7 separate regions of the Homo sapiens genome follow, and regions 2, 3, 4, 5, 6 and 7 are each reported to be linked to region 1. The links are microRNA targets in miRTarBase. Many come from high-throughput screens and were not tested one by one. Region 1 holds a microRNA gene; each other region holds the end of a gene's coding sequence.
Evidence for each region. Region 1 holds the annotated microRNA hsa-miR-215-5p (AUGACCUAUGAAUUGACAGAC, at 2,398-2,418, opposite strand). A microRNA usually pairs through its seed, bases 2 to 8, with sites in the 3' UTR of a target mRNA and lowers its output. Matches are read on the target gene's strand: a 7mer-m8 pairs with bases 2 to 8, a 7mer-A1 pairs with bases 2 to 7 and ends in A, and an 8mer does both.

Region 2: miRTarBase lists APC as a target of hsa-miR-215-5p. The part of its 3' UTR that is shown has no 7-base or 8-base seed match.
Region 3: miRTarBase lists TICRR as a target of hsa-miR-215-5p. The part of its 3' UTR that is shown has no 7-base or 8-base seed match.
Region 4: miRTarBase lists ZNF776 as a target of hsa-miR-215-5p. Seed matches in the 3' UTR shown: 7mer-m8 at 2,966-2,972.
Region 5: miRTarBase lists SOWAHC as a target of hsa-miR-215-5p. The part of its 3' UTR that is shown has no 7-base or 8-base seed match.
Region 6: the mRNA of PPP1CA is a reported target of hsa-miR-215-5p. Seed matches in the 3' UTR shown: 7mer-A1 at 3,321-3,327.
Region 7: miRTarBase lists MMP20 as a target of hsa-miR-215-5p. The part of its 3' UTR that is shown has no 7-base or 8-base seed match.

The regions. Positions count from the first base shown.
Region 1 is chr1:220,115,519-220,119,686 of GRCh38, forward strand. MIR215 (microRNA 215) reads right to left here and starts at 2,444; the gene lies at 2,335-2,444. All of the region lies in intron 12 of IARS2 (isoleucyl-tRNA synthetase 2, mitochondrial), which reads left to right. MIR194-1 (microRNA 194-1) reads right to left here and starts at 2,723; the gene lies at 2,639-2,723. It overlaps LOC124904515 (a long non-coding RNA gene), which reads right to left and starts at 3,595. Exons shown (of 2, transcript XR_007066883.1): 1 at 3,467-3,595; 2 at 2,224-2,365.
Region 2 is chr5:112,843,511-112,847,678 of GRCh38, reverse strand. APC (APC regulator of Wnt signaling pathway) reads right to left here. Exons shown (of 16, transcript NM_000038.6): 16 at 1,440-4,168. The coding sequence ends at 3,553. Among named protein-coding and RNA genes, the nearest start is that of SRP19, 16 kb to the left of the region's middle.
Region 3 is chr15:89,626,791-89,630,790 of GRCh38, forward strand. It overlaps TICRR (TOPBP1 interacting checkpoint and replication regulator), which reads left to right. Exons shown (of 22, transcript NM_152259.4): 22 at 166-1,233. The coding sequence ends at 296. KIF7 (kinesin family member 7) reads right to left here. Exons shown (of 19, transcript NM_198525.3): 16 at 3,497-3,703; 17 at 2,585-2,783; 18 at 2,186-2,332; 19 at 1,187-1,996. The coding sequence ends at 1,629. Among named protein-coding and RNA genes, the nearest start is that of KIF7, 27 kb to the right of the region's middle. RefSeq lists an enhancer at 1,974-3,173.
Region 4 is chr19:57,754,345-57,758,512 of GRCh38, forward strand. It overlaps ZNF776 (zinc finger protein 776), which reads left to right. Exons shown (of 3, transcript NM_173632.4): 3 at 1-3,804. The coding sequence ends at 343. Among named protein-coding and RNA genes, the nearest start is that of ZNF776, 9.6 kb to the left of the region's middle.
Region 5 is chr2:109,615,798-109,619,965 of GRCh38, reverse strand. It overlaps SOWAHC (sosondowah ankyrin repeat domain family member C), which reads right to left. Exons shown (of 1, transcript NM_023016.4): 1 at 976-4,168. The coding sequence ends at 3,899. It also overlaps a transcript of RANBP2 not described here. Among named protein-coding and RNA genes, the nearest start is that of SOWAHC, 3.5 kb to the right of the region's middle.
Region 6 is chr11:67,394,875-67,399,042 of GRCh38, forward strand. It overlaps PPP1CA (protein phosphatase 1 catalytic subunit alpha), which reads right to left. Exons shown (of 7, transcript NM_002708.4): 5 at 4,066-4,168; 6 at 3,848-3,982; 7 at 3,309-3,771. The coding sequence ends at 3,661. RAD9A (RAD9 checkpoint clamp component A) reads left to right here. Exons shown (of 11, transcript NM_004584.3): 6 at 842-951; 7 at 1,038-1,147; 8 at 1,237-1,301; 9 at 1,389-1,526; 10 at 2,305-2,512; 11 at 2,590-3,536. The coding sequence ends at 2,685. It also overlaps the pseudogene RNU6-1238P. Among named protein-coding and RNA genes, the nearest start is that of PPP1CA, 4.9 kb to the right of the region's middle. RefSeq lists enhancers at 2,633-3,214, 3,215-3,795.
Region 7 is chr11:102,573,889-102,578,056 of GRCh38, reverse strand. It overlaps MMP20 (matrix metallopeptidase 20), which reads left to right. Exons shown (of 10, transcript NM_004771.4): 10 at 631-1,225. The coding sequence ends at 731. Among named protein-coding and RNA genes, the nearest start is that of MMP7, 45 kb to the right of the region's middle.

The DNA.
Region 1 (4,168 bases):
CACTGGACTCCAGCCTGGGTGACAGAGTGAGACTCTATCTCAAAAAAATTAAAAAAGAAAAATTCATTTATTATAAGTGATTTATAGTAAATTTGTTAAGTTTTACAGCCACTATCATAATTGTGTCTTAGAATAATTCTTTTATCCCGAACAGCTCCCTTTTGTGCTTTTCGAAAGAGAAGTTGCTTGGAAATCTGTGAGCTTTGGAGAATGGCAACTGAATTTGAACCCAGGCTTTGCCATTCACTGTGTGTGAGACTGAGGAATTTACTTAGCCTCTGGCTCCTCTATAAAATAGGAAAAGCAATGGTTGCAGGTAGACTGTTATGAATACTAAATAATAAATGCAAACTACTTGGTGTAAAGCACAGTATTCCATAGATGATGAGCTATTCATGTATTCACTTAAGAAACATTGTTATGTGGGCACAGTGGCTCATGCCTGTAATCCCAGCACTTTGGGAGGCCAAGGCGGCAGGATTGCTTGAAGCCAGCTGTTCAAGATTACAGTGAGACCCCATCTCTACAGAAAAATTTAAAAATTAGCTGGTGTGGTAGTGTGGGCCTGTAGTCCCAGCGACTTGGGAGGCTAAGGCGAGAGGATCGCTCAAGTCCAGGAGTTTGAGGTTATAGTGAGCTATGATCATGCCAATGCACTCCAGCCTGGATGACAGAGCAAGACACTGTCTCTTCAGAACGAAACAAAACAGAACACATTGTCAAGCACTTAGTACGTGTCAGTGCTAGGAACTGCTAGTTGCTACAGTGAACAAGACTGACATGGCCCCTGTTTTTAATGAGATAATAGTCTAGCTAGTTTATCTTCTAGTAATATTAGGGAGGCTTTGAGTGTTGTTGCTGTTTTTCACAGATGTGGAGAGGGGAATGTTAATTCTTCCTTTTAGGAACACATTCCAGATTTTCATTTTCTTTGAGCAATTTTTTTTAATTTGGTGAATGGAATTTTTTCTAAATTATGCTATTAAGAAGTTTAAACTTTTAAGTAGACTTGAGGAGTAAGAGTATGTTTTAGGAAAAGAAAGTAGAGGCTAGAGACTGGAAAGTCATTGGAAAGCTATTTCAATATTATTATAAGTTGGATCTGAGGTAAGACTTTAGGAATAATCTAAATATTGTTGCTGTGGTGTTCTTACAGAGCTTGGTCAGATGTAAACTACTAATATCTTAATACTTACATTAAGAATTAATGTAAATTCTGTCCAGTTCAGATTATTTTATTTTATTTTTGATACAGTCTCACTCTGTCACCCAGGCTGGAGTGCAGTGATGTGATCTTGGCTCACTACAACCTCCACCTCCCAGGTTCAAGTGATTCTCCCTCCTCAGCCTCCTGAGTAGCTGGGACTACAGGCACGCGCCACTGACTTGGCTAATTCTTGTATTTTTAGTAGAGATGGGCTCTTGCCACGTTGACGAGGCTGGTCTCGAACTCCTGGCCACAAAGGATCCATCCACCTCTGCCTCCCAGAGTGCTGAGATTACAGGCATGAGCTACCATGCCCAGCCTCAGACTTAGTTTAAAAGAAAAAGAATTAAAGTGATTATACCTGAGACGAGTTTCCACAAACATTTGTTTAAAATTTCACACTGGAAAGTTTTTTTTTTTTTTGGAAAGTTTTATAAGCCATGTCATTGTCTCCTCTTCTTTTTTTTTTTTTTTTTTTTTTTTGAGATGGAGTTTCACTCTTGTTTCCTAGGCTGGAGTGTAGTGGCACGATCTCAGCTCACTGCAATCTCCGCCTCCCAGGTTCAAGTGATTCTCCTGCCTCAGCCTCCTGAGTAGTTGGGATTAGAGGCATGTGCCACCACGCCCGGCTAATTTTATATATATATATTTTTTAGTAGAGACGGGGTTTCTCCATGTTGGTCAGGCTGGTCTCAAACTCCCGACCTCAAGTGATCCGCCCGCCTCAGCCTCCCAAAGTGCTGGGATTACAGGCGTGAGCCACTGTGCCCGGCTACTCTTCTTTTCACTATTTAGAGAGCAAGATGTCTAGGGAATTTCACTGAAGTGATTGAGGTGGGTGGGGATTCCTTGGTGGAATAGCCCTCTGGACTCTGAGGTGGATCATATGTATGTATTAGTAAATATAGCAAACTGGTTTAATTGATACATCCTGATAATTAAATGGTACATAGGTTGACTGGTCAGTAAGTTAGGTTAAATAAATATGAGCTTTGTCAGAAAAACACAAGTTTTCATTAGGTATATTTATGTTTTATTTACTCAATACATTTACATGGTAGTGTTACAGATTATCTTCTGTGTACCTGCCATTGCGTTGGTTGCGTGGTGTTAGTCGATTTCTGATATTGAAGTAGCACAGTCATACAGAATATTGGCCTAAAGAAATGACAGACAAACTCAGCTATATTGTCTGTCAATTCATAGGTCATTTTCCTGTATACCATTTCTGAATGATGACTTTAATCCTCTTCCATTATTGGATCTTTTTGGTGTTACAAAACTTGAATTTAAGAAAATTGATATTAATTCTTAATCATTTGTTAATTTTATAAAACAGGCTGAAAATCTTTTTTTCTGCTGGAATCAAATGAGAGTCCAAGTGACCACAATTTTCTGTCTTTCTTTATTATACCTTTATATTGTAGCAAGTTGGTAACCATCAAAAGTAACAGCATCTCCACTGGAAATTGGTACACAGTCCACATGGAGTTGCTGTTACACTTGATAACACCATTAAACATATAAGGAGATTCCTTTTGCTCATCATGGGAGCTGTACGATATCTCTAAGTATACTTGTTTCACAGAAGAAAGTCTCGATTTATTCATGTTCTAAATAAGTTTAGGGACTGGTAGATTTGAAACGCTGATGTTTTATTTTGATTTGAATTAATAGTGTCATTTGCATTTTAGATCATATTTGTATTTTATCAAGAAATAATTCCATTTCTGACTTTACTGTCATTGGTCATTTTTTGAATCTGTGAGATAATGCCATTAGAATTTGGGTTGAAATCTGTTACTAGTCAATAAAAACAGAAGAAATAATTTTTAGCATAAAAAAGATAAAATGTAGAAACACTGGCTACCTGGGAAGGAAAAGAAGTTGGTTAAATTTCTTTCATCATTTCAAACAGTTATAATCACTTTCATGCTATTAATGCTATAGTTAACATAGTGAAACTTAGCCCCTAACTTCTGGAAATTATGAGAAATTTAGTAAAAATAGCCAAGGAATTTCCAATATAATTTGAGTGTTAACTTTAGCTACCTCAAATTTTTTCTCAGTTAACAATAATAAACCTTTTGTTCAAAAAATTTATGTTCATTAAATAAAGAAAAATTTCTTCAAAATGGTTTTCTGTCAGCTTTAAAACATAAATCTAGGATTAAACTAAAAATAGAATTTCCCCTTCCAAATTTCACATTGTTCTAGAATTAAATTTAGTAAACAAATGTGAAACATTTAGCCTCTTACCTCATTCTTCTTCCAGTAAGTTACAGAAGAAAAGTTGTCTTAATAATCTTCAATATTTTTGCTTATAAAGGCAAAACACAGAAGACAGTGGGATGACAGCAGTCGTTTCTTTGTTGCTTTAGTAATCTTAATGCTGCTTAATGTCCATAACACGCTAAATAAGCCTCATTCCGGTTGATATCGAAGTTCAGAATGATTGGCTGATGTCATAGTTGCTCATGCTACCTAGTGGATTTTCACTGATTGAAACCTAAGAAGGGACACGTAATGCATGTGTTGAGATAAGGCCTTTGAGTAAAGTACAAGGTTTTATGATGGATTTATTGCTTTATGAAGTAAAGCATTAAGATGGAAGCATATAGATTACATACTGGTAAGTGGTTTCACCCACTTTTATCAGCAGTCGTTTATACTGATCTTTGGGTTATAGGTTAACTATGAGTTTGTGTTAAGTATACAATGTTAAAGAAATGAAGGTAGAATTCTTAAATTTCAGACAAATTAGGAATTTTCCTGCATTTTTTTCTGAAGAATATTAAATATCACAAGGAAATAGTTAGAAAATTGTTTAAAAATTTTTTTAGGAAACAGAAAATTATTTAAGAAATCTTTTAAGTATTATCTTGGTTTCATTATAAAAAAATTCCACTTCTAAGTATTTACCCAAAGGAAATAGGACTAATACCTCTTGTGTGAGGATAT
Region 2 (4,168 bases), not on the chromosome of region 1:
ACCATGACTTGTGAAAAATAATTGTTTCATAAATTTTAATGATCTGACTACTCAGATGTTCCTTTAACTATGGGCAATTTACTTTTTGCATTTCTGGTGCTCTGCTTTTTTCCTTAGATTCCAAGAAACCCTGGGATAACATATATTCAGATATTGTGCAACTGGCTCCCATCCTCTGCAAGAGATTCATTCTTTCATGTAATTAACCTGTGGCAACATGATCCATATTTTAATCAAGAAACATTTTACTGTACTTACAGTGCTATTTGATCCTTATGGGGCTTATCTTTGATTACTTCCTTTTCATTACCCTGGTAATCTGTAAAGTTGTCCTCAAATATCTTATTTGCTAATTATTGATCACTTCCACTGTATATTAAAAAACTGGATATTTTCATCTGAAATCAACCTTCTCTCATCTCAAAGTTCCCTTTTCATAGTCTTTTAATCTTATTGAAAATTCAAATTAGATCTTTGCTGAAGTTACTGCTTTTTATAATGACAGTCTCAAAGGGAACATTAACTGATCCTTCAAATATAATCACTGTCTTTAGAATTACTTGTTTGTTCATGTCTGGCTAAGTTTGTCTGCTGTCAGGAGTTGAGATGAGCATTATGAAATTGGATGGCTTAATATTGAAATCTTTTATGCCTAGGGGAAGTCTTTTATCTGTTGCTATACTTTGTCAGATTAAGGGTCCAGTTGTTGGGAGGAATCGCTAGAGCTGAAGGCAACCACTCAAGGAGCTTCACTGTGATCTTAGGGCAGTAATTCTCAAAAAGTGTGGTCTCCAGACCAGCAGCATTAGCCTCACCTTTGAACTTGTTAGATATGCAAGTTCTTAGGCCCCATTCCAAACATCCTGAATCAAACTGGGGGTATGGCCCAGCTATGTCTTGTTAAGCACTCCTGGTGATCCCAACGCACTCCTTTGAAGTGCCTTACGTTAGGTAACTCTCCCTCCCCCACTCCTCTCTAAACAGGCATCGTAACTCCTGACTAATTCCCAACGCTGGGCTTAGTATGCCATTTGTTAACAAGCATAAACTGGGAATATTTGGCCTGCTATCGATTATAGCAGCACCCTGTGAACATCTATAATTAGAATTGAGATTTGCCCCTTTACTAATTCAGAACCACTATCTCTAACAGAGGGCCTCATCCAGCAGTCTTTACTTCAATGGGTAGTATAGACTGGCCCGTCTCCCCCCACTCAAGTGTTGCCTACAAAAATTCCACTTTTCTGGCATGTGGAATGTTCATTTTCAGCATTTATATTTTCTTCCTTATTTGAATTAAAAGGCAAGTTTATCTAATTGACTAACATCCATCTCTTTCCATAGAAGTACTTGAAGTGGTTTGCAACAACTGGCATGCAGTAATTCAGAAAATTAGAAATAGAAAATCAAAAAATGAAAGGAAACCAGTATGACCTATATGCATGTATCTCCATTGTTTATGGAAGCCTGGGAAAACAACAGAAGTAGATGGTATTCATAGACAATTTCAGATAACATTTGGCAAAAATTTAAAGGTCAATCATTTCAAAGATAGTAAATTGAAGTGTTTACAAAGTGGTGCAGTAGACACAGTACAGGCATTGGAGTCAAATATCTTAGCTCAAGTCATAGCACTTTTATTTACTGGCATTTTAGCTTTAAAAAAAATCATTCTCATTACCTGGAAGTTATAAACACAGGTAAGGGGTAGATAATTAACTACTTGATGTGATTTTCAAGGCACCAGGTAGGTGTATTCACTCCTATCTGAGTGCCCCACCATGCTTAAAAAGGTTTTCCCTCCCCAAATACAGAGTGTATGAATCTTATCACTAAAAATAAATTTTCATTTATTCAACAAATATGTATGCATGTATCATCAGTCACCCTCTGATCTTTTAAAACAAATCAGGGAAGATATATTAAGTAAATTATCTTAGTTAATAAGTGTCAGTTTATTTTCCTTCAGGAAGGAAGACTTCCCTCCACTGTATAAGGGGACACTTAACATGTACCCCAGAACTGTACCTACCACAAATAAAGTTTCCTTAACAGGCAGGGATTCTAAAATATACTTCTGAATATCTTAATCGTATTAAATCTACCTCTAAAGTTCCATGTGATTTGAATTTTCTGAGCATGGCAAAGTGCTGATTATACTTCACTGCTGAGATCTTGCCCTAACATACAGGGTGATAAAAAGTGTTCATGTCAGACCCAGTTGCAACAAGAAGATGAAGGGGCAAGACAGTTTACACTGTAAAGCCTCGAAGAGACTGCAATGTCTAAGAATCAATTTCAAGTACAGAATTCTATAATATTAAGAAAGAGGAAATTATGTGGGCCTATTATGCTCAATGCTTAGTCTGTGCTAGGCTGCTTGCATTGCTATTACATGAATTTACTTTTACTGAGCTCCAGTGGAGTAAGAAAAAAAAGTTTAAGTGGAAAAATATTAAAAATCAAGATGAGCTAATCACATAAAAGAAATTTCAGGAATAGATAAGTGCCAACGCATGGAATGGTTAAGTGGCAACAGTCTTCTTCAATTGTTTTTATTACAGTAAGAGGAATTTTACTCTTAATGCATAGAAGCTGAAGAAAAAAATTTATATAAGCTTTTAAAAGAGGCATTTTAAACAATTATTAATACAAATGTGAAACAAGACCCTTCAAACAAATACCAATTTCAGTAACAGTTTACATACAGCAATAATTTATTCTGAAATGTTCATTTAGTTTCTGTTGAGACACAATTCATGTCTCATTAATAAAAGAGCAGCCATCTCACCTCAAATACCAGAATATACAACAAATTACAGCATAGCAAAAATTCTACCTACTTTCAGATAAAATCTAGTTCAGGTAAAATAGTTTCATTCAATGTTTTACAGTTACACAGATTTTTGTTTTGTTTGGAGCACAAAATAGTGTAAATTATTACACTGTAGCTATCTCTATGCACATCATGTGACCACATAACTGTTAATCATTACTTCTGAAATTGAACCATCAGTTTCATTCATGCAGTAAAGCAAAGCAGGCTGGGTAAACTTGTTCATCGGGAACCATATTACTGTGAATTTCACAGCCACATGATTAATTATGATGTTAGATGGACTCACAAGGACAAAAACATTTTTTTTTGCATAAATACCAATTTTTCCCTGATGTAAGTTTAGTCAGTTTATAATCTAGAAATGATTGATAACAGCAATATATCATATTTTCTATCTGTAGTGTTCATTATTTTAAGACAAGCAATAATTAAAGGAAGTTGGGATGGGATGCTACTTTAAATACATGTAAAACATACTGTACAAACATACTTGGCTTTACTATTTTTTTCCTAACCATCAAGAGTGCCTCCCAAAATAAGACCAGTGAAGACAAAGTATACTATCAAATATGGCTTCCAGAACAAAAACCCTCTAACAAGAATCAAACCTATTTACAAAATTTTTCAGTCTTTTAAAGTTTCATTTGAAACAAAATGTCTATATAGCAGTTGTAATTAACATAGAATTTTCTTAGTTTCATTCTTCCTCTCTTTTAAACAGATGTCACAAGGTAAGACCCAGAATGGCGCTTAGGACTTTGGGTTCCACTGGATTCTGTGCTGTCAGTTTTGGAATCTCGCTTCTTTGTGTTGTTATTCACTGGAGTTGGGATCTGAGATGGCCGAGCTGAAGTGCTATCTGCGCTGCTTTTCCTAGGGCTTGGGTTGTAATTAAAAGGAGTCACTCTGGCAGCAACAGTCCCACTAGGTGAACTGTGTTTGCTTGAGCTGCTAGAACTGAATGGGGTACGTTCCACTATAGAACTTTCATTAGTCTCTGATACAGGGACAGGATTATTTTGTCCTGGTTTTATCTCAGTTCCTTTTTGGTCAGGGGCATCCACCTGAATAAAGGAGTTCAGGCGATTTTCCAAACCCACGGTACGCATGGGAACACTGCCATTACCCACATTTTGTTTTGCCTGATTATCTTTTGAATCTTTAATGTTTGGATTTGCCTTTTCTGAAACACTGTCAATCACCGGGGGAGTATTACCTGTGGGAGATCTTCCAGATCTAGGATTGTTAATGGGACAGTCCTCAATTCTCACCCAAACATCCTCTGTTTTAGAAACAGCAGGTGCCATTTGATAAATTAGAGTCTTTGAT
Region 3 (4,000 bases), not on the chromosome of region 1:
CTTCTAAAAAGTGTAGGTACCATTTCTGTAGGATAAGCGAACCTCCAAGCAGTGCTGATTTTCTTAAAGTCTGTTTTTGTGTGTAACCCTCTGCAATTTAAGCCAATTTTTTTCAGTTCGGTCCTCTGTGACTCCTGCATGCTAAGCCTTTCTACCTTCTTCTAGATGAGGATGTGGATGTTCTTCCCTCCACTGTAGAAGACTCTCCTTTCAGTCGCGCTTTCTCCAGGAGGCGCCCCATCAGCAGAACTTATACACGGAAGAAGCTCATGGGAACCTGGCTGGAGGACTTATAGCCACAAACATTACTGAGCCCAAAAGATCAAGGAGTCAGCCAGGACCCTGTGGACATAAAGAAGTTGGATGCCTGGTCCCAAGCCTCTTTTGCCATGGTCAGTGTTCAGATTGCCATTAGAATGCCTTAGGGTTTTCTAATTCCCCTTATGGATCCAATCCATCTCCTGGCCCTGCCCCTTGTTGGGGAAGTTGCAGGAGGAGAGGTGGATGGCAATGTGATTGGTGCTATAACTCAGGCAGCCTGGGAGTCAGGAACCCAGACAAGGAATCCCATTCCAGCCTCACCCCAACCATGACCTTGGCAAGTCAGGGGGCCACTCTGCCTCATTTATGCAAATGGAGAAAGGCGCCCTCCCTGGGGTCCCTTGAGCTGCTGTAAGGCTGGGCTGCTGCGACACAGGCAGCGCTTTGTAAACTGTGAAGCCATATACGTGAAACTGAAGAGTGCATTGGGCAGTGGAAGCTATTTTTTGCCTTCCCTGTGTAACAGTAAAATCATCTCTAGTGACTGAGCACTCAGTACATTTTTGTTTAATGTTGGGCCTGAGGTTAACTGTGACCATGGTCCAGCTTGAGTGGCTTCTGGAGCAGCCACATTTTCAAGGACTGTCCAAGAGCCAGCCAGTTCAGGGCTCAGGCCTCACCCATTGCCCACTCCTGGGGAGACCATCACCTGGCTCATCGTTTCCACCAAGAGTGCCCCACAGGAGTGCCCCACAGACCCGCTGGACCAGCCTGCTGCGGGTCCTGGCCAGGGGTCTGGCTAACGGTGAGGGCTGACTCTGAACTGTCTCTCAGTCTCCAGAAAGTGTTCAAGCCTGTTGTGTTCCCAAATCTGATTCCTCCTATTGTCTTGTAAATCAAACTCTAAGTGAAAACTTCCCATTTGTCCCTTCAAAGATTTTTTTTTATTAAATGGTTTTTTAAGATCCTAAAGTCTCCCAGTTTCCCCTATATACATAAGACCATTTAAACCACAACCTGGTTACCACCGACCCTTTCGTGATGATTCTTGGCCAAACCCCTGAACTACAAGCACATCCATTTACGCCTGAAACCAGAATTGTCCTGAGATTCGAGCAAGACACAAGGCGGCAATTGGGTACCACAGCTTCATGGAAGTAAGTGGTGGGAATTTGCATATTATTTTGTTAAATGAGGGTCCAGTTCTTTTGGGCCATGGCCCAAATTTGTTGATCCCAGTGAGGGTACAGATGAGGGCCTGGATTTAGGGTGTGCGGTAAGGACTGCCCTTCACAGAAGCAAAACAGGCAGCTGCCCCTTTCAGCAGGCTCGGAGTCTCCCTCCAAGGCAGGGTCTGCCCCGAGGGCTTACAGGGGGTTTTTCCGGACATCAATCATCCCCGGGCTGGCTCGTCGCAGTTCCCGCCGGGGCTTGGACAAAGGCCCAAAGTTCCAGGGCAGGCCTGCCTCACCCACAGGAAGCACCCGCCCCACCAGGGGCTCAGCCGCCTCCCGCTGCCTCAGTTCCTCGGGGGACCCCTGCTCCTCACCACACAGGCTCGAGCGTTTCCAGGTCAAGGGTAACGGAGCGTGGACCAAGTCCCGCGTCTCCTCCCGGGTGCGGGGGGCCCCCTCAGTGAGGGGGGACAGCCAGAGAAGCTCGGGTGCCAGGTGGAGCTCATCTTCATTTCCAGGAGCCTGTCTGCCCTCCGAGCACAGGCTCCTCTTCTCCCCACCTGTCATGGAGAGTAACGTGTCCTCATCAGAAACAGGTGGCAACACCTTCCCGAAGCCCTAGCTCCCCAGTGCCCCAGCACAATAAGCAACCTGTGAATTGAGCCAATAAAGGCTCGAGGGAGAGTGGTCTCTAAGCTTTCCCCAAAGAAAGGGAACAGGTCTGACTTCAGAGCGCGACGAGGAGTTACCCCTGCTGTGGCCTACAGCGTTCACACCGCCGAGCTTCTGTTTCAGTTCCTGGTTTATCCACATGTAACGGCCCAGTTCCTTCTCCAGAGCTTGAATCCGGGCCTCATACTGCCTCCTGCTGTCTGCTAACCCTTCACCGAGGTGGTCTAGAGTGGAAAGGTCGAGGAGAGGGTGGTGAGGGCTGCAGGCGGGGCAGGCGGCCAGGGCTGTGGGGGTGGGGGCTGTGGGCTGGGTGGGGGCCGGGGTTGTGAGCGGTGGGCCGGGCCACCAGGGCTGTAGGTGCAGGGGCTGTGAGTGGCAGGGGCGGTGGGGGGAGGGAGGGGGGTGCAGGGCGGGGAAGATGGGGGTGGGGGGGATGGAGGGGGCCGGGGTTGTGAGCCATGGGCCGGGCTGCTCACCTCGACTCTGCTGCAGGAGCAGCTGCATGTTCTGCTCGTGCTCCTTCTGCTGCAGGGTCAGCTGGCGGTCCATCTCCAGGCGCTGCCGCTCCAGGGCCACCTCCAGCCAGTACACCAGCCTCTGCTGCTCCTCCAGCTGCATCTCCAGTTCCGAGAAGGCAATCTGCTGCTGGTGCTGCTCCTCTCGGAGCGTCACCACCTGTCCCAAGACCCAGCCAGGCTCAGCCCTCATCATGACCCCTCTTCATCCAGCTAATCCTCAATCACAGACACAGTATTGGCACACTTGCCACCACGGCACTAAGAAATCACCAGGGTCTTCCCTGCTGAGCCAAGACTCAGCCTCAGACACCTCAGCAGTGCTCTAGTTATCTTCCAACGATCAGAGCTGGCTCTCACCTTATCTGCTATCTCTGCCACAAACCCTTTCCTAGCCACACACTATGGAGCTGGGCAGAGCGTCAAGTTGTGGGATTTCATCTAGACCAACCTCAGCACTATGGACATCTGGGACCAGATAATTCTTGGTTGTGGGGGCCTGTCCTGTGTGTTATAGGATGTTTAGTAACATCCCTGGCCTCCACCCCCACCACTGTGACAACCAAAAGTATCTCCAGCCATGGCCAAATGTCACAAAAGGGCAAAAACTTCCCCTACTGAGAGCTACTATTGTGGCCATGGACCACCCTGAGGTTAGCCAATCAGAGCAGAAGTGGGGGGCGGGTAGGAAACTGGGTCTTAGTTTCACAAGTAAAATAGGCTTTAAGGTCAGGCGGCCCTGCAGATGAGTTGGTCCTGATTCTGTCCCCCAGTCTGGGAGGAAACGGGATATCCGCTGGAGCAGCTGCCATGAGACACCTCCCCACACGTGCCGCTGAGGAGGAGCTGGGGGGCCATGGGCTGCTGGCCCACCTTGTCAAAATACTTGCAGAGGAGGGCTCTGGTCTCTGAGGATGAGAGGTAGCTGAGCTTGGCCATGAGGTTCATCTCGCACTGGGACAGCAACGAGGCTGAGGCCCGAAGCACCCGCTGGCGGCATGTGATGGCCTCATTCTTATACTCAATGGCAGCATCCAGGGCCTCGATGGCCTCATCCAACTGGAACAGCGTCCGCTCCTCCTGCAGAGACGGGCACGCGTGGAGGAACAGCACCCACTGCCTGAATGCTGAAGTCCTGGGCAGACATGCAACAGCCAACACGTAGCCACAACTGGGCCTTAAGGGTCCCCTCGTCCCAAGGGCCAAGTCAGCCCATCGAGAGAGGTGCCCCCTGCTCACTGTCACAGCCCCAACCCCAGGGTGAGCTGGGGGCACTGCTCAGAGGTGGCCTGCTCAACTGCAAGCCTCTGTGAATGATCTACATTCAGGAAGTTCAGAGCACCCTAACCAAACAAAAGGCATGGTTGGGACAGCCAC
Region 4 (4,168 bases), not on the chromosome of region 1:
GTGTAAAGAATGTAGGAAATCATTTAGGTACAAGTCACACCTCACTGAACACCAGAGAGTTCACACTGGAGAAAGGCCATATGAGTGTAGAGAATGTGGGAAATGTTTTCATCAAAAGGGCAGTCTCATTCAACATCAGCAGATCCACTCTGGAGAAAGGCCACATGAGTGTGGAGAATGTGGGAAATGTTTTCATCAAAAGGGCAGTCTCATTCGACATCAGCAGATTCACTCTGGAGAAAGGCCACATGAGTGTGGAGAATGTGGAAAGTGTTTTCGTCAAAAGGGAAACCTCATTAAACATCAACGAGTTCACACGGGAGAAAGACATCATGAATGTTGAAAATTTGGCAGATCTGTTGGTAAAAAGAGCACCCTCATTCAACATTCGTGAGATCACACTGGAAAGCACTTATGAGTATGGAGAATGTGCAAAATCATCTAGCCAAAAGGTTGGCCTCATTCAACAATAGCAAGATCACACTGGGGAAAGGCTTTCTGAGTGTAGAGAATGTATGAAATCCTGTACATAGAAGTTTTGCCTCACCAAATACCAGAAGGGTCACACTGGAGAAAGACCCTATAGTTATGGGGAATTTGGGAAATTACCTAACAAGAAGTCCCACCTCACTGAACACTACTGAGTTCACAGTTGAGAAAGGCCATATGACTGTAAGGAATTTGTAAAATTATTTAGCCAGAAGAGCTGCATTACTATTCATCAGATAATTTACAATGGAGAAAGGCCACATAATAATTTCTCACATAATAAATGTGAGAAATCATTTCCGTACAGCTCTGCGCTCCATGTTCGTAAGAGTTCACACTGGACAAAGCCTTATGAGAGCAGCGAGTAGAAAATCCTTTGTGGGAAAACTCTGGTTTCATTAAACACAGGAGAGTTCATGCTAGAGAAAGGCCTCAACAGTGTAGCAAATATGGAAAGACATTCACTAGAAGCTCTGCCCTGCAAGTTCACACTAGAGAAAGCCCTTCTCAGTGAAGTAAATTTGGAAAATTGATTAGTCAAACCTCTATGCTCCTTCAAAATCAGAGTTCACACTGGATCAAGGCTTTATGGTGTGACAAATATGGCACATTCTTTATCTAAATGTCTAACATATTATGCACAGACAAGCTCCTGCTGTGGAAGTGCCTTTTGAGTGCAGAGCATTTGCGAGGGCTTCACTCTTCTTTCACTGGATACCAGAATGTTGACAGGAGAAAAATAACATAGATGTGTGGGAATATTACTTCTTGTCCAGTGTAACTGTGGGAGAGAGCCCTTATGAGGACACCATCAACCTATATTGAATGTCATATGTCCAGTAGCTGCATAAATTCCAGGTATATGGGAGCTGTATTGCATTTCTTATCCTGCGTATGTCCTTGCCAGATTTATTTCATTCTTAGGTCTCTGGCAAAAGCCATTTCATCTCTACCACTTGGCAGGTACCTACAGTGCATCACTCATGCACTCCATCATATTCCAGAAAAAAAGTTCAAGTTGTCTCCCATTCAGCAGTGGTATTTTTGAGTAGCCTCTGCACTCGTTCCTTTCTCATTTCTCTATGAAGAGTTAGGCCATGGACCTGACTCAGTTCTGGCCTAGAGCAGAAGTGTCCAATCTTTTGGCTTTCCTGGTCCACATTGGAAGAAGAATTGTCTTGTGCCGCATATGAAATACATTAACACTAATGATAGCTGATGAACTTTTTTAAAAAATCACACAAAAACCCTCATAATGTTTTAAGAAAGTTTACAAATTTGTGTTGGGCTGCATTCAAAGCTGTCCTGAGATACATGCGGCCCACAAGCTGCGGGTTGGACCAGCTTGGCCTAGAGAATTTTTCTGATTACTTGACAAGATGGGCTGTCTTTCCTAGGAATCTCATGATTGTCATGATTCTTAAAATGGAATTTTCCAGCCTCTTAACTCACCAACCCAAGTACAAGCTGCCTCTCATTGTTCTGGTTTCTGCTATGATGAAGTCCTTATTTAAGCTTCCTTCAATCTTGGGAATTGTATTGACTGTATTGTGTGAATTGTATACTCACTGCATTGTGTGGCTTAGATACAACATGGTTCTGGTACCATGAAGGATTCTGGTACCATGAAAGTTTGTTGGGGTTACTAAACTGTGTGACTCTTAGGGAACAGTATGAAGGCAGAATATAGCTCTGCATTTGTGGCCTAGTTTGGATGGCTGCCTAAGGCCTCCAAATAAAGACTTCAGGGCTTTGTGATCTTTATTTTTAGATGAAATAGTGCAATAATATGTGTTTTCATAAATCAACCTGAGTAGGGGACAGTTTTAGTGACACACTTTGGTGCTTCTGAGAACAGCACAAAATTATTCTCTTGTTTATAATGGATATTGCATTCTGCTCAGTACTGGTGAGGGAAATCTGTTCTCAAGTCCTACAGTGCATTCATGTGTCCTGAAGTCCAGAATTCTGTAGGATAGTGTCCTACGTTATAAGCCTGGAGAAAGAAATCATAATTCTTTAATTTTTATTTTTTTAGGGAAATGATGTCACTCTGAAACTCAGGCTGGAATACACTGGCATGGTCATACCTCACTGCGGCCTCAAACTCCTGGGCTCAAGTGATCCTCCTGCCTCAGCCTCCCGAGTACCTGAGATTAGCCCAGGTAATTTAAGAATTTTTTATAGAGATAGGGTTTTGCTATTTTACCCTGACTGATGTTCAACTCCTGGCCTCAAGTAATCCTCTAGCATACGCCCTTGAAAGCACTAGGATTACAGGTGTGAGCCACCATGCCCAGCCCAAAAATAATTTTTGTAGAATTAGCATTTCTAGGTAGTGAAGCAGACTGCAACAGAATAGTTGGGATATACTTTTTTTAAAAAGGCATCCACAATGATTCAGTCACTATGTCTGTGATGGACAAGCAGGTACAGAAATTTTCAGGACCTCCATAATTATGAATCTAGTGTAGCTTAGGTCATTGTCAGACTAAATCTAAAGGTTTTGTGGATTTCTGTAGCCTATCTGGGCTGCATACCAAAAAGCCATCCCTGAATTAGTAGGAGGAAGAGGATAGGGAGAAAGGAAATCTCTTAGTCCAGTGATGTGGCCTTTGCAACCAGCCAGCATTCCAATTTAATCAGGTGGAAATGATCTTCCTGGCTCATAAGTATTTGGTATCACACAGGCTAATTGCCCCCCTTAGGGCGTGATGAGAGTTAGGAGAGTCAATGTAAAATCACATAACCTATTTGTCAAAAATAATGTTAAATCCAGATAGTTCTTTCAAATTAAATTTTTAAAGCTGTAATAAGACTGGGCATGGTGACTCATGCCTGTTATCCCAACACTTTGGGAGTCCAGGGTGGGAGTATTGCTTGAGGTAAGAAGTTTGAGACTAGCCTGGGTCCCATAGTAAGACCCTGTCTCTTAAAAAATAAATACTATCTTTCTCTCTGGCCTCTCCATGCTCCAGACAATCACTGAATTACAATATTTGCTTAACAGTAGATTAATGTCAATTTTCTGGAATTTTATATGACTGATATAACATGTTTCCTCTTTTCATACCTGAGTACTCTCCTGAGCCCTATTTATTTAGATGTTCTTCTTTTTTCTTTATTATTATTTTTATTTCACATAGCAGGGATGCATATTTTGACATTCATCAATCATGATATATGAGTAGTTCATTCTTTTTATCTTAGAATATGACATGCTATGGAAATCACTGTATACGAATTCATCTGCTTATGGATATGTTATTGCTTCTTATTTTTGTCTGTTAGGAATAAAACTGCTTGTTAAGCACATTTGAATGCAATTCTTCATATAGATAAGGTTTCATTTCTCTTGTTTGAATGCCTTGGTGTGCAGTGCCCAACTCACATGGTAGATGAATGTATACCCCTCTCCCAACTCCAGGCCGCACAGCTTACAGCTCCAAGAGAGACTCCTTCCCTCCACTTGAGGAGAGGAGAGGGAAGAATAAAGAAAACTTTGTCTTGGAACTTGTTCCAGCTCAGCTACAGTAGGATAGGGCACCAGGCTGAGGCCCCTATTCTAGGCCCTAGCTCTGAATGACATTTCTAGATATACCCTGGGCTAGAAGAGAACCCACTTCTTTGAAAGGGAGGATCCAGTCCTGGGAGGATCCATCACCTGCTGACTAAAGAG
Region 5 (4,168 bases), not on the chromosome of region 1:
TGAACCACATGACTTCTGTATCTTGAGAAACAAGTTTCTGTAGAGTCATCTTCCAACCCTCTAATATTCAGTGATTTATGAAGACTTGGGTGATCATTGAAGGAATACTGGTTTACAGCAAATTCCAAGTATTTAATCCTGGAATTAATCATGTAAGAAACTCCAAATAATGCTATTTACTTAGCAAAATAAAAATAATTTTTACTAGGAAAATTTCAAAAATATCTTTAAGTGAACTGGTTAATAAATCCTTTTAAGACATGTACTTCTAAGGAAAGAAGTTATTCTAGAAAAACAAACTACTTATCTAGTCTTTCAGTGATCCTGAAAAATATTTTATGGGTTATCATAAAACAAGAATAACCCCAGCAGCCATCACAGTGGGATCTCCCGGATAGAGCAATAGTGGGCGATTACACCAAAGGAGTACCACATCCCTTTGCCATTCAACAGAGTTGAATTTTGCTAAAAATACAGATCACAGGAAGCCTTGATGAGGTAATTAACTCTCAATGCTTCACAGAGGCTGAAAAATGAAAAACGGTATTCCTACACCTGTCTTGAAGTCAGCCCTGGGTAGGGCAGGTTTATGGCAGATGGTGTGTGCAAAACCCATACAGCTTTTTTTTAGGTAGTGGTGGAGGTATTACCTTCTCTCCAAGTTGATTCCTCCATCACTGGTGCCAAACTACAGCAGTTTTGCTAAAAATGTGGCAATTCAATGTGCAGAAAAGATAACGTTGTGGGAAAGCCCTGACTCTTATAATCTTACTAACAGCTTTTTACTGTGTGACCCTGAACAACCATTAACCTCTATTTTCTTATCTGTAAGTCAACAATATATGGCCCATAATCTTAAGGGATAGGAAAAGGGTCAAATAAACTGAAACTTCAAAAAGCATTTTGTGAACTGTAAAACACAGTATATGTAAAAAGTCTAAAGGACGACAGAAACTTAGACAATTCAGAGAAAAATTCTACTGTGAACATTTTATTTTCACAAAACAAACTTTACAGATTTTACAATCTCCCAAATTTCACTTATTTAAAAATAGGAGAGACAAGGCAACCTAGACTCCAAGATTGCAGGCGTGAAAAAACTAGTACCAGATATTCAAGTTATATATGCAAACTGCATTTTATATACCATGAAAGTGAAATGTGACAAACACTCACTAGTTTCAAGTGTACCTTATAAGAAACACATGGACATACTTGGGTTTTTTAACCACATAGTCTCATATCAATAAACATCTAAGTATCTGACATGTATTTTTCCATTAAAGGTAGGCACAACTCTATGAATATCAAATTATATCAATCATTTGCTTTTTATAATCTTGACTGGAAACTGAAAAATAAGAGGAATGTAAAGTTAAGTAGCCGAAAATGCTACTTACTGCACAAAAGCACATCATGAAAAGGAATGCTAGAAGTAGTTCTCCTCAGGAATGGGTTTTTGAAAATTTAAAATATTATTTTATCAGAAAAGTTAAAGCCTTCAGTGGGAAAACCATGGTAAATGACATATTGACTCAATCTCTAAAGCCCTGGCAAATTATAGATTTTGTGCAATTAGTGACCAACATATACATTTAAGAGATAATACTGACTGTTGACCAGAACCTTCTGATGGTTCTGAAGCATCTGCTCTTTAGAGTTACTTCAGCTTTACATGTCTATGAAATTTAAGATTCCTCAATGGGATGTTATAGCTTATTCTGCACTAGATACAAGTAATATGTATAGATTTAGAACAAATGACTACTTTTCACCTTCCAGGAGCCTGTTTTTATTTATACAAAATTAGATTGGTTTTTCACCCACATGTATGCATAAGTGCTTCTCAAATTTACACCGTTCATATCTGAAATCCCACAATAAATGCAAATAAATGGATACTAGTTTATATATTTCATATTTTCATTCATCTTTTTTTTTTTTTTTTTTGAGACAGAGTCTCCGTTGCCCAGGCTGGAGTGCAGTGTCGTGATCTTGGCTCAACTGCAACCTCCACCTCTCAGGTTTAAGTGATTCTCATGCCTCAGCCTCCTAAGTAGCTGGGACTACAGGCACGCACCACCACGCTCGGCTAATTTTTGTATTTTTAGTAGAGACAGGTTTTCACCATGTTGGCCAGGCTGGTTTCAAACTCCTGGCCTCAAGTGATCCACCTGCCTCGGCCTCCCAAAGTGCTGGGATTACAGGCATGAGCCACCATGCCTGGCCTTTCATCCATCTTTAAACAAATTCAATGACCATCTAGAGACAGATGTGACCAAAGTGTTACAAATTTCTATGCATTTTCTATGAATTGCTCTGTGCAGTTCACACATGGGTTCATTCACCCCGCAGGCTGTGAACTTCCTTATCCTGTAGGCTGCAGGTACTTAGGTTTCAGCAACTACGCGACCCAAAAGACTAAAGGAGGACTTGTTTAAATTAGTCCCTCTCAAAAATTGTTTCCAATCTTATAACAAACAGATTTAATATGCTTGTGGGTTAAATTTTAAAGTAGTTATGAAGCCATTTACTCTAATATAAATGAATGAAATGTAATTAAGAACCATACTTAAACGAGTACTTAATTTTAATGAATGGTATTTTTCATTTATATACAAAGGAATAGCCAGCAGCATTTAAATATAGAAATAGTCCCATCTCTTCTCTATTCCCTTTTATAAAGTGCCATTTTAATTGGGTAGATTTACTACCCAGATTTTCAGTAACTACAGGATAGGTATCTAATTGTCAAGAAAAGCTTGGAAAATTAAGTTTAGCATTTTAAACATTTGTAAAACATTGCTACAAGTCATAGAGACTACCAATGTATTAAAATAAAAAGTGTACCTTACATAAGAATCATTAAGTTGGTTTAATAATTACTTCACAGAAACATGGGCTCATGAATACTTAGGCCAATTTGTGCTAATTATTTAAACCAGAAACAGTTTCTGTAGGTAATTCAGCTCTAAGCACCATTAAATAGGGTTATGCCAAATAGAACAATGGTTAAATAATCCTCAGAATAAACACCCCAGCAAATTCAAACTTTTAGAATAGTAACAAAAGTTAGTGAGAATCCGAAAGAGAGGCAACATTTTATTGAAAACTATCATAGGCTGCTAAGTGTTCTCTTTAAATAAAATTTTGTGTAGTTATTAATGTACCTTAACACTGGTGTACCTTAATAGTGGTGTTAGAGATAGGTGGAAACCATACTACAGAAGTGAATGTTGCCTGTTTCTTTTGTTCAGTGATTAAAACTGAAATTGCTTTTAAAAAAATAATTTAACTGCTACTTACAATACACATAAAATACCAAGAAGATTCCCATTTTATTCACATTATTCTCTAATTAGTATTTTTGCATTTCAACTTTGATCTGACCTTCAGTAGTACCTTAAAATGCAAATGCAATTAGTAAAAACGGGGCAGCCTGTCGTTTTCACACTTAGAAATACAATGTAGTTTCATTACAGTTTGCATTTTTTTGTTACTCTTGAAAGAGTAACCCCTTATAAAATCAGATACATAAAAACTGCATTATTCCTTACTTTGCAGGCATCCAGGAATGGTTAAAGCAAAGGAACTCTCATTCATTAATTCATTCATTCTGTTCCCCCAATTTAGATACATTTCTAGTCTCCAGAAACGGACTCCAGGGCAGGGAAGTGGAGGGCAGAGAAGAGGTACAGGTCAAGGTATGATGAATCTCTGAAAAAGACATCCACTTTTCCCAGAAGGCTAGCCTGAAGAGAACTCCGCCCCATCCATTCCGATCCCTCAAGTAAGAATGCATAATTTAGCTTGTCCTTCTGGTCTCACTTCCTTACAACACCTAGTATTCAATTTATTAAGACAAATAAACCTTTGCATTTTCTAAAAGAAGCAATTTTTACCCAAATACATTGGACTTTGGTCTCAATGTGAAGGGCGAGTGGCCTTTAACAGGTCGTTCCTCCCCCACTCCCTCCTCCCCCCTGCCCTCCAGCGGCTGCTCTGGGTCCCTGAAAGAGGGTGTGGTGTGGACGATCTGGGTTCTGAATCGGATTTTGTTGAGTCTGGGTTTTATACGTCCACTAGAGCTGCCCGAGGCTTTGCGCCCTGGATCCTTGGCTTTGCCTCCGACCCACCCCTCAGCCGAGTGGTGATGGTGGTGATGGTC
Region 6 (4,168 bases), not on the chromosome of region 1:
CAAAGTACTGGGATTACAGGCGTCAGCCACCACACTCAGTCTCTTTTTTTAAAAATGAGCAATTGTTTCTCTCGTTTTGTTTTGAGATAGAGTCTCGCTCTGTCACCCAGGCTGGAGTGCAGTGGTGCAATCTTGGCTCACTGCAATCTCTGCCTCCCGGGTTCAAGCGATTCTCCTGCCTCAGCCTCCCGAGTAGCTGGGATTACAGGCATGCACCACCACGCCCGGCTAATTTATATATGTTTAGTAGAGACGAGGTTTCACCATGTTGGCCAAGCTGGTCTCGAACTCCTGAACTCAAGTGATCCACTGCTTCGGCCTCCCAAAGTGCTGGGATTACAGGCATGAGCCACTGTTTTTTTTTAAATCCTTGCGCAGGGGCCTTGCTCATCTTTTGCATGCTTCAGTTTTAGTGTATGTGCTGCCGAAGCAAGCACTCTGTCTCATGAATAATTTCAAATATATGTAAAAGCAGACGCAGCTCCCGTCCCCACTTGACTTGAAACAATTTCCAGATGTGATTTCATCTGTATGTCAATGGGTATCCTTAGAGGATAAGGATTTCAGGGCTCTTTCTGAAGGCCGGGTTTGTAGGGTGGCCTGAGTGCCACGTCCTGCCTCTGGGCCCTCTCCCTGGTCTGCATGGTCAGGTGCCGCCTGCCAGGTTTGAGCAACCACTGCAACCAGTCCCCTCCCTGCCACCTTCTCTGGGCCTCATCCACGGTGCGCTAGGCCTGCGCACATCCGTGCGTGTGCATGTGTCACCCCCACCTCAGGTCCTCCGAGAGCAAAGCCCTGGGCAGGGCCAGGCATTTCGGGTAATGCTCCACCCTGTTCACAGGGTTCTGGGGGAGGCTGTTCTGCCCTTCTCTCCTGCACTGGCTGAAGTGACGCTGGGCATTGGCCGTGGCCGCAGGGTCATCCTGCGCAGCTACCACGAGGAGGAGGCAGGTGAGGGGGCTGGACGTGGCCTGGGACAGCAGAGTGGCAGGTGGGAGAGGGGCGGGGCCCAGGTTACTCCTGTTCTTCCCCAACAGACAGCACTGCCAAAGCCATGGTGACTGAGATGTGCCTTGGAGAGGAGGATTTCCAGCAGCTGCAGGCCCAGGAAGGGGTGGCCATCACTTTCTGCCTCAAGGAATTCCGGGTGAGGTTCCTCCCAGGCGCTCGCCGTCCTGTCCTCCCTGCCCAGCTCAGCCCAGCCCGGGGCCTCACCTGCTACCTCTTTCCTCCCAGGGGCTCCTGAGCTTTGCAGAGTCAGCAAACTTGAATCTTAGCATTCATTTTGATGCTCCAGGCAGGTAGTTCCCAGCCTTGGGACAGGGAAGGGCTCTGGGATGGCAGGAGCTGAATGGGATGACCTAGCTTGGGCCCCCTCCCCTGCCCAGGCCCGCCATCTTCACCATCAAGGACTCTTTGCTGGACGGCCACTTTGTCTTGGCCACACTCTCAGACACCGACTCGCACTCCCAGGACCTGGGCTCCCCAGAGCGTCACCAGCCAGTGCCTCAGCTCCAGGCTCACAGGTGAGGGCACCTCCCCCCAACTCCTCCTCTCTCCATGTCTGTGCACTCCAGCCTGAGACTGCAACTCCTAGCTTCTGCACCTCCCCGCAATGTGTTCTCTCCCGCCCCTTCTCTTTCTATCAGGCCCCAGCCCCTAACCCTATAGTGCTCACAGCTGCCAGCCCTGCAGACTCAGCCTTCTCGGTTAGCTGTACTCAGAGACCCCTCCCACCCAGGGAAGCATCCCCAAGGCCCTGCCAGCTTCCTTCTCTGGCTGAGGCCGCCCCTCTGAGCCTCCTCCCAGGCCAAGGAGGGAAAGGGCTGCTGGGAGGCAGGAGCTGCCTGGGCTGGGGGAAGCAGGTGGCTGGAAGGGCAGGTGGGCTGGGGAGGATGGCCCAGTGCACTTTCAGCACAGGAAGTTGGGGCTGGCCCCCAGCCCAGCCTGTCCCTGGGCTCCTGTGCTTTCCAGCTCCTGTCCCCTGGGAAGGTGGGGGCTTGGGCTCCATGTGGCCCAGTTCATAAGACTTGCTGCTCCTCCCTCCTAGCTGAGCTAAGGTAGCCCCCGGGATGCCTCCCTCAGGCCCCTACCTGAATTCTGATCAAAGAGATTCCTGGCCCACCCCCTCCAGGAAGTCACCACTTAACCCCTGCATCCTCTCCTCTCCAGCCAAATCAGGAAGTCATAAAACCAAGAGATCTCCAGTGGTCGGGGGCCCCAGAGCTCCCTTCGAGCCCTCCAAGGTGGGGCCCTGCCTCTGCTCCCCCAGTCCCCTCCCTGATACTCCGATTCTGCCTACAGCACACCCCACCCGGACGACTTTGCCAATGACGACATTGACTCTTACATGATCGCCATGGAAACCACTATAGGCAATGAGGGCTCGCGGGTGCTGCCCTCCATTTCCCTTTCACCTGGCCCCCAGCCCCCCAAGAGCCCCGGTCCCCACTCCGAGGAGGAAGATGAGGCTGAGCCCAGTACAGTGCCTGGGACTCCCCCACCCAAGAAGGTAGGGACTGGAGGTGGAGGCAGGGGTGGGAGGTAGGGAAGGGAGCAGCCTCCAGAACTCACTTGTTCTCTTTCCAGTTCCGCTCACTGTTCTTCGGCTCCATCCTGGCCCCTGTACGCTCCCCCCAGGGCCCCAGCCCTGTGCTGGCGGAAGACAGTGAGGGTGAAGGCTGAACCAAGAACCTGAAGCCTGTACCCAGAGGCCTTGGACTAGACGAAGCCCCAGCCAGTGGCAGAACTGGGTCTCTCAGCCCTGGGGATCAGAAAGGTGGGCTTGCTGGAGCTGAGCTGTTTCACTGCCTCTCGCAGGCCCCAGCTGGCTGTCACTGTAAAGCTGTCCCACAGCGGTCGGGCCTGGGCCGTTATCTCCCCACAACCCCCAGCCAATCAGGACTTTCCAGACTTGGCCCTGAACTACTGACGTTCCTACCTCTTATTTCTCATTGAGCCTCAGGCTATACTCCAGCTGGCCAAGGCTGGAAACCTGTCTCCCTCAGGCTCACCTTCCTAAGGAAAATGTCATAGTAGGTGCTGCTGGCCCCTGGTGATCCAGCTTCTCTGCCAATCATGACCTGTTCCTTCCTGAAGTCCTGGGCATGCATCTGGGACCCCCGTGGAGCTGACAAGTTTTCCTTGCTTTCCTGATACTCTTTGGCGCTGACTTGGAATTCTAAGAGCCTTGGACCCGAGTGTGTGGCTAGGGTTGCCCTGGCTGGGGCCCGGTGCCGAGACTCCCAAGCGGCTCTGTGCAGAAGAGCTGCCAGGCAGTGTCTTAGATGTGAGACGGAGGCCATGGCGAGAATCCAGCTTTGACCTTTATTCAAGAGACCAGATGGGTTGCCCCAGGATCCGGCTGCCAGCCCTGAGGCCAAGCACGGCTGGAGACCCACGACCTGGCCTGCCGTTGCCCTGAGCTGCAGCCTCGGCCCCAGGATCCTGCTCACAGTCACCGCAGGTGCAGGCAGGAAGCAGCCCTGGGGGACTGGACGCTGCTATTGATTCATTAAAAAAAGAAAAGAAAAATACACCAAGGCTCCATGTTCCCCGTGACAGGTGGGCCTGAGGGGTCGGGGTGACCCCCCCCCAGCATGGCAGCATGATTTCTGTACAATCAATCCATCATCTGGGGCACAGGGTGGTGTGCGGGGGCTATTTCTTGGCTTTGGCGGAATTGCGGGGTGGGGTGATGGGTCGGCCTCCAGGGTTCAGGCCACTGAACTGCCCGTACTTCCCCTTGTTCTTGTCGGCGGGCTTGAGGATCTAAAAGAGACAGTGTTGGTCAGGCTCATGGGGCTGAGCCACAGGGCCTAGCGGCTCCTTTCTTCCCCACACTCACCTGGAAAGAGCACATGAGGGTCTCGTCCACACTCATCATGGCGCCAGCATTGTCAAACTCGCCACAGTAGTTGGGAGCTGAGAAAAGTGTCACCAGCTGCCGCTTGGCAAAGAACTCGTAGCCGTCTTCTACCACCTGGGCGAGGATGGGAGCAGTCAGTCCCGAGCGCAGGCACGGCCCTCCCCTTCCCCTGCCGCAGGCCGGAGCCACCAGCCCACCTGGTGTGCTCGGCAGATGAGGTCCAAGTCGTGCTTGTGGAGGAACTTGGCCACCACCTCGGCTCCAAAGGTAAAAGAGACGCCACGGTCGTTCTCGCCCCAG
Region 7 (4,168 bases), not on the chromosome of region 1:
TGAATACATTTAATTAAATCTTCTGAAGTAGTCAGTTAGCACACTCTTCTTGAAAAAATAGCACAGGGCTGGACACTGTTCAGAAGTGCAAAGACCATTCCAGATGTGGCCACTGCTCTCACAGAATGGTTCACCCAACACAGATGAAATGACTGGAAAACAGACAATCTATAATTTAGTGTTGAGTCATGTGGTAGACTGCACAATAATTGCAAGAGCTGATCTGAGAATTAAAATATCAGAATCGGCAGCAGTCATTGGAAATTTTATAGTAGGACTTCAGATGGGTTTTGAAGATTGGCCGGAGGCTTAACTAGGGAAAGAAAAGGGGAGTGGCTTCCTGGAGGAGAGCAGCCTGAGCAGAAGCACAGTACATAACTGAGCATGGCACATTGGATGACCCCAACAAGAAGGCCTTACCCCGGCTGGAACAAGGAGAAAGCTCAGAAATGACTGAGAAGTTCAGGAGTCAGGTTCTAGGGCATGAAGACAGAAGACAAGCTAACTGCCACCTGACAAATTCACAATTCCTCTTTGGTGACACTTTAAGAAAGTGACAGTGACAAATTCTTCCATTTATATATGTGCTGGACATCTTCAGTAACCCAATTTCAACTTTGTCTCTTTTAGGCTACATTTACTTCTTTTCAGGACCAAAAACATACAAGTATGACACAGAGAAGGAAGATGTGGTTAGTGTGGTGAAATCTAGTTCCTGGATTGGTTGCTAAATAGAAAAGCCTAGTCTTCTCAAGCAATGAGGATGACTACAAGCAGCCTCTAACTGGATCTTAAGGACTAAAGCAGAATGTAGGAGAGGGATTCTTCCAAAGGCCTTCAAATCAAATTAGAATTCACTGAGAATAATAATACTTCCAATTTTTTTCATAGTTGTATAATCAGAATTTCAATCCACATTAGAAAAGTTTTTATATGGGCAACTTTATGCGAAATCCAAATCAACACAATGCACTCTGCAGTTAGACACCATTATTTTTTCTTACCTAATATACTGAAGCAGATTGATCCGTTTGATTTTTATTTCCAGGAGGAAGACTAGTGGTGGATTCCATGACATATATTGTAATTCTTTTCATAGGAAATGTCATTACAGTATGAATTATAATTATTTACAAGCAATGGCTTTTGTGGCCATCATTTGGCCATCATTTGTTATAATAAATATAAATTTCCCAATTTTTACTTAAAAGACATCACAACAAAATACTGCATAAGAGTGGTTTCTTGTGTGTTTAACTTTGTGTCTACTCACTGGTATCTGATGTAGGCTTAGGTGGATAAACCTATTCAAACAAATTTTCATAGTAGGCAAGAGATGGGCACTTTGCAACAGAAAAATTTTTTAACAATAGCTAATAAAATGTTTTAATAGAACAGTTCCTCATTTCTTTTTTCTGTTAATATTTACTAGCTTCTATAATACTTTAATTGGCTACCCACACATCCTGTGTACCTATAGAAAAATTAAACCGTAAGATAACATCATAAGTACACAGACCCGGAAAGAAATAACAGTAACTCATTCTACTTCCTGCTTCCTGAAAACAGCCTCAGTGAAACTATCTTTTACCCAGCTAAGTGAGTGTCTTTTGAATAGTCTTCCATTCAGGGGAGTTCATCTTTTTGTTTTAGTTTTTCTTACGTCAAGCTAAACCTTTTTCCCCTACCTAGTCATCAGAATAGATAAAACTATGGCTCTGTCATTCTTATAATTTTGCTTTAATCTTACTCTCTAGAATGTAAAGATTCTAAAATATTTTAGTGATTCTAAAATTGAATGATAAGATACTTGTAATACTTCATAGACCTCCTGATACATCTACAGTGTTTAACAGATGCTACTATTGTTACCATCATTTATTAAATTTGTTTCATATAGTCACTTAAAAGACCTAATATTAAGAAAGGATGGGGTAGTTACTCAAGATTATTCTACACTTTCCATTTGGTTTCTGTTACTGAAAGTGGCCACTTATAGTCCACCAGATGTTGAATATTTGTTGAAGACAAGGTCTGGCATCCTTGCCTTCTAATGTCAAGGTGCTTCTATAGAGGAGAAAAGTCACTTTTGCAAAAACTGCTAAGAAGGACTTCTTACTATCAATAAGCAAGGAGAAAAACAGGCTGGCAATTTCTTAAAATATTTAACGTAGACTTACCCTATGACACAGCAATTTCACTCCTAAGTATATACCTATGAGAAATTAAAACATGTCTACACAAAAAACTTGCACATAAATGTTCATAGCATCGTTATTTATAATAGCCAAAGAGTGGAAAAATGTCCATTGAGTAATGAATGAATACGTAAAATGTGGCAAATTCAGACAACAGAATGTTATTCGACAATAAGCAGAAATGAAGTCCTAACACATGCTGTAACATGGATGAAGCTTGAAAACATCATGCTAAATGAAAGAAGCCAGACAGAAAAGGTCACATATTGTATGATTCTATTTATATGAAATGTTCACAATAAAAAAATCTATGGAGACATAAAGCGGACCAGTGCTTGTCAGTAGTTGGGGGAGGGGGTTATAAGGAGTGACTACTAATGGGTATGGGGTTCTTTTTTTTGGGATAATGAAAATGTTCTAAAACTGATGATGGTGATGGTTGCACAACTCTGTGAATATATTAAAAGCCATTAAATTGTACACTTTACATGAGTGAATTATATGTTATGTTAACTATATCTTGATAAAGCTGTTACATTAAAAAAAAGAAGGAGATCAAAGTAGTGTGATGATCCATGGAGGTCATGCATTCTGGCAACTGTGTCAGGGACCACATGACAATGAAGCACCAGCCTGAGGACATCCAGTGCTGCACGCAACCAGCCAGATGTCCTCCTCATGTCCAGCACTAGCCCAGAATCGTGCATACAGAAGACACTTCACTAGTCAATGAATTCACTGAAAGCAATAAAGCATATGCTCTCAGGTCTGACTGATGGATTCAAACTCCAGATCTTCTATTTTCAACTGTGTGATGTTGACCAAATTCCCTCATCCTCATTCTCTGTCTCAGTGTCTTCCTTTATAAAATTGGAATAATGGCAGTTTTTATCTCCTAAGGATATTTAGAGCCTTAAATATATGAGTCAAAATATGCAAAGTAGTCCCTGGCACTCTACAGGGGCTCTATAATTGTTGTTTTTGAAGCCATTAGAGTTCATTTTGTTTGGTGATATTTTGGAGAATTTGTATATGTCCCTTGAGATAGCTAAACATCTGATGAGCTATAATATCACAAGAATTGATAATCAATGACCTGAAATTTTTCTCTTCCAAATGTCAAATTAAATCAAATAATTAAAAATACTATGTTTATCCCCCATCTCCAAAAAATAATTCTTATAAATCATTATTTTTTGTTGAGTTAAAGAATTCTTGGCTTTTAGGCCAGGCATAGGGGCTTACACCTGTAGTCCTAACACTTTGGGAGGCCAAGGTGGATGGATCACTTGAGCTCAGGAGTTTGAGACCAGCCTGGGAAAGATGGTGAGACCCTGTCTCTACTAAAAATACAAAAAATTAGCTAGGCATGGTGGCGCATGCCTGTGGTCCCAGCTACTTGGAAGGCTGAGGTGGGAGGACCACTTGAGCCCAGGGGTCAGAGGTTGCAGTGAGCTGAGATTGTGCCACTGCACCAGCCTGGGTGACAGAGCAAGACCCTGTCTTAAGAAGAAAGCTCTTTGCTCTCAGATATAAAATTAGTATGTATTTTGGAAAAATACAGTCTCTCTAAAGCACAAGAAGGTGTGATTGTGTCATAACACAGAGCACTTATCCTCATATGATACAAGAACGTTGTGCAGAAATAATTTATAACATAAACTACTCATTTGACTTCAGAGTAACTGAGTGCAAACATGACTTATTAAATAACAGTTTTGGACAAAGTGTGGTTGAAGTACTCCCTTGAGGATCACGAGGTAGCAAAACAGAGTTCACTTCCTGATGAATTCTATGCATTATCCTATTAATCTCAGTGATGACTCTTTGTGGGCTGAACCTTTGAAAGCACTACACAGGCTACTAAGGATGAATGGATTCACCTCCTTGGGGAGCTTTCCTAACAGCTCCATATTAAATTTTCTCTGGTATAAACCAAGCCCTCTTCCATTTAGCCTAGTCCTAAATGA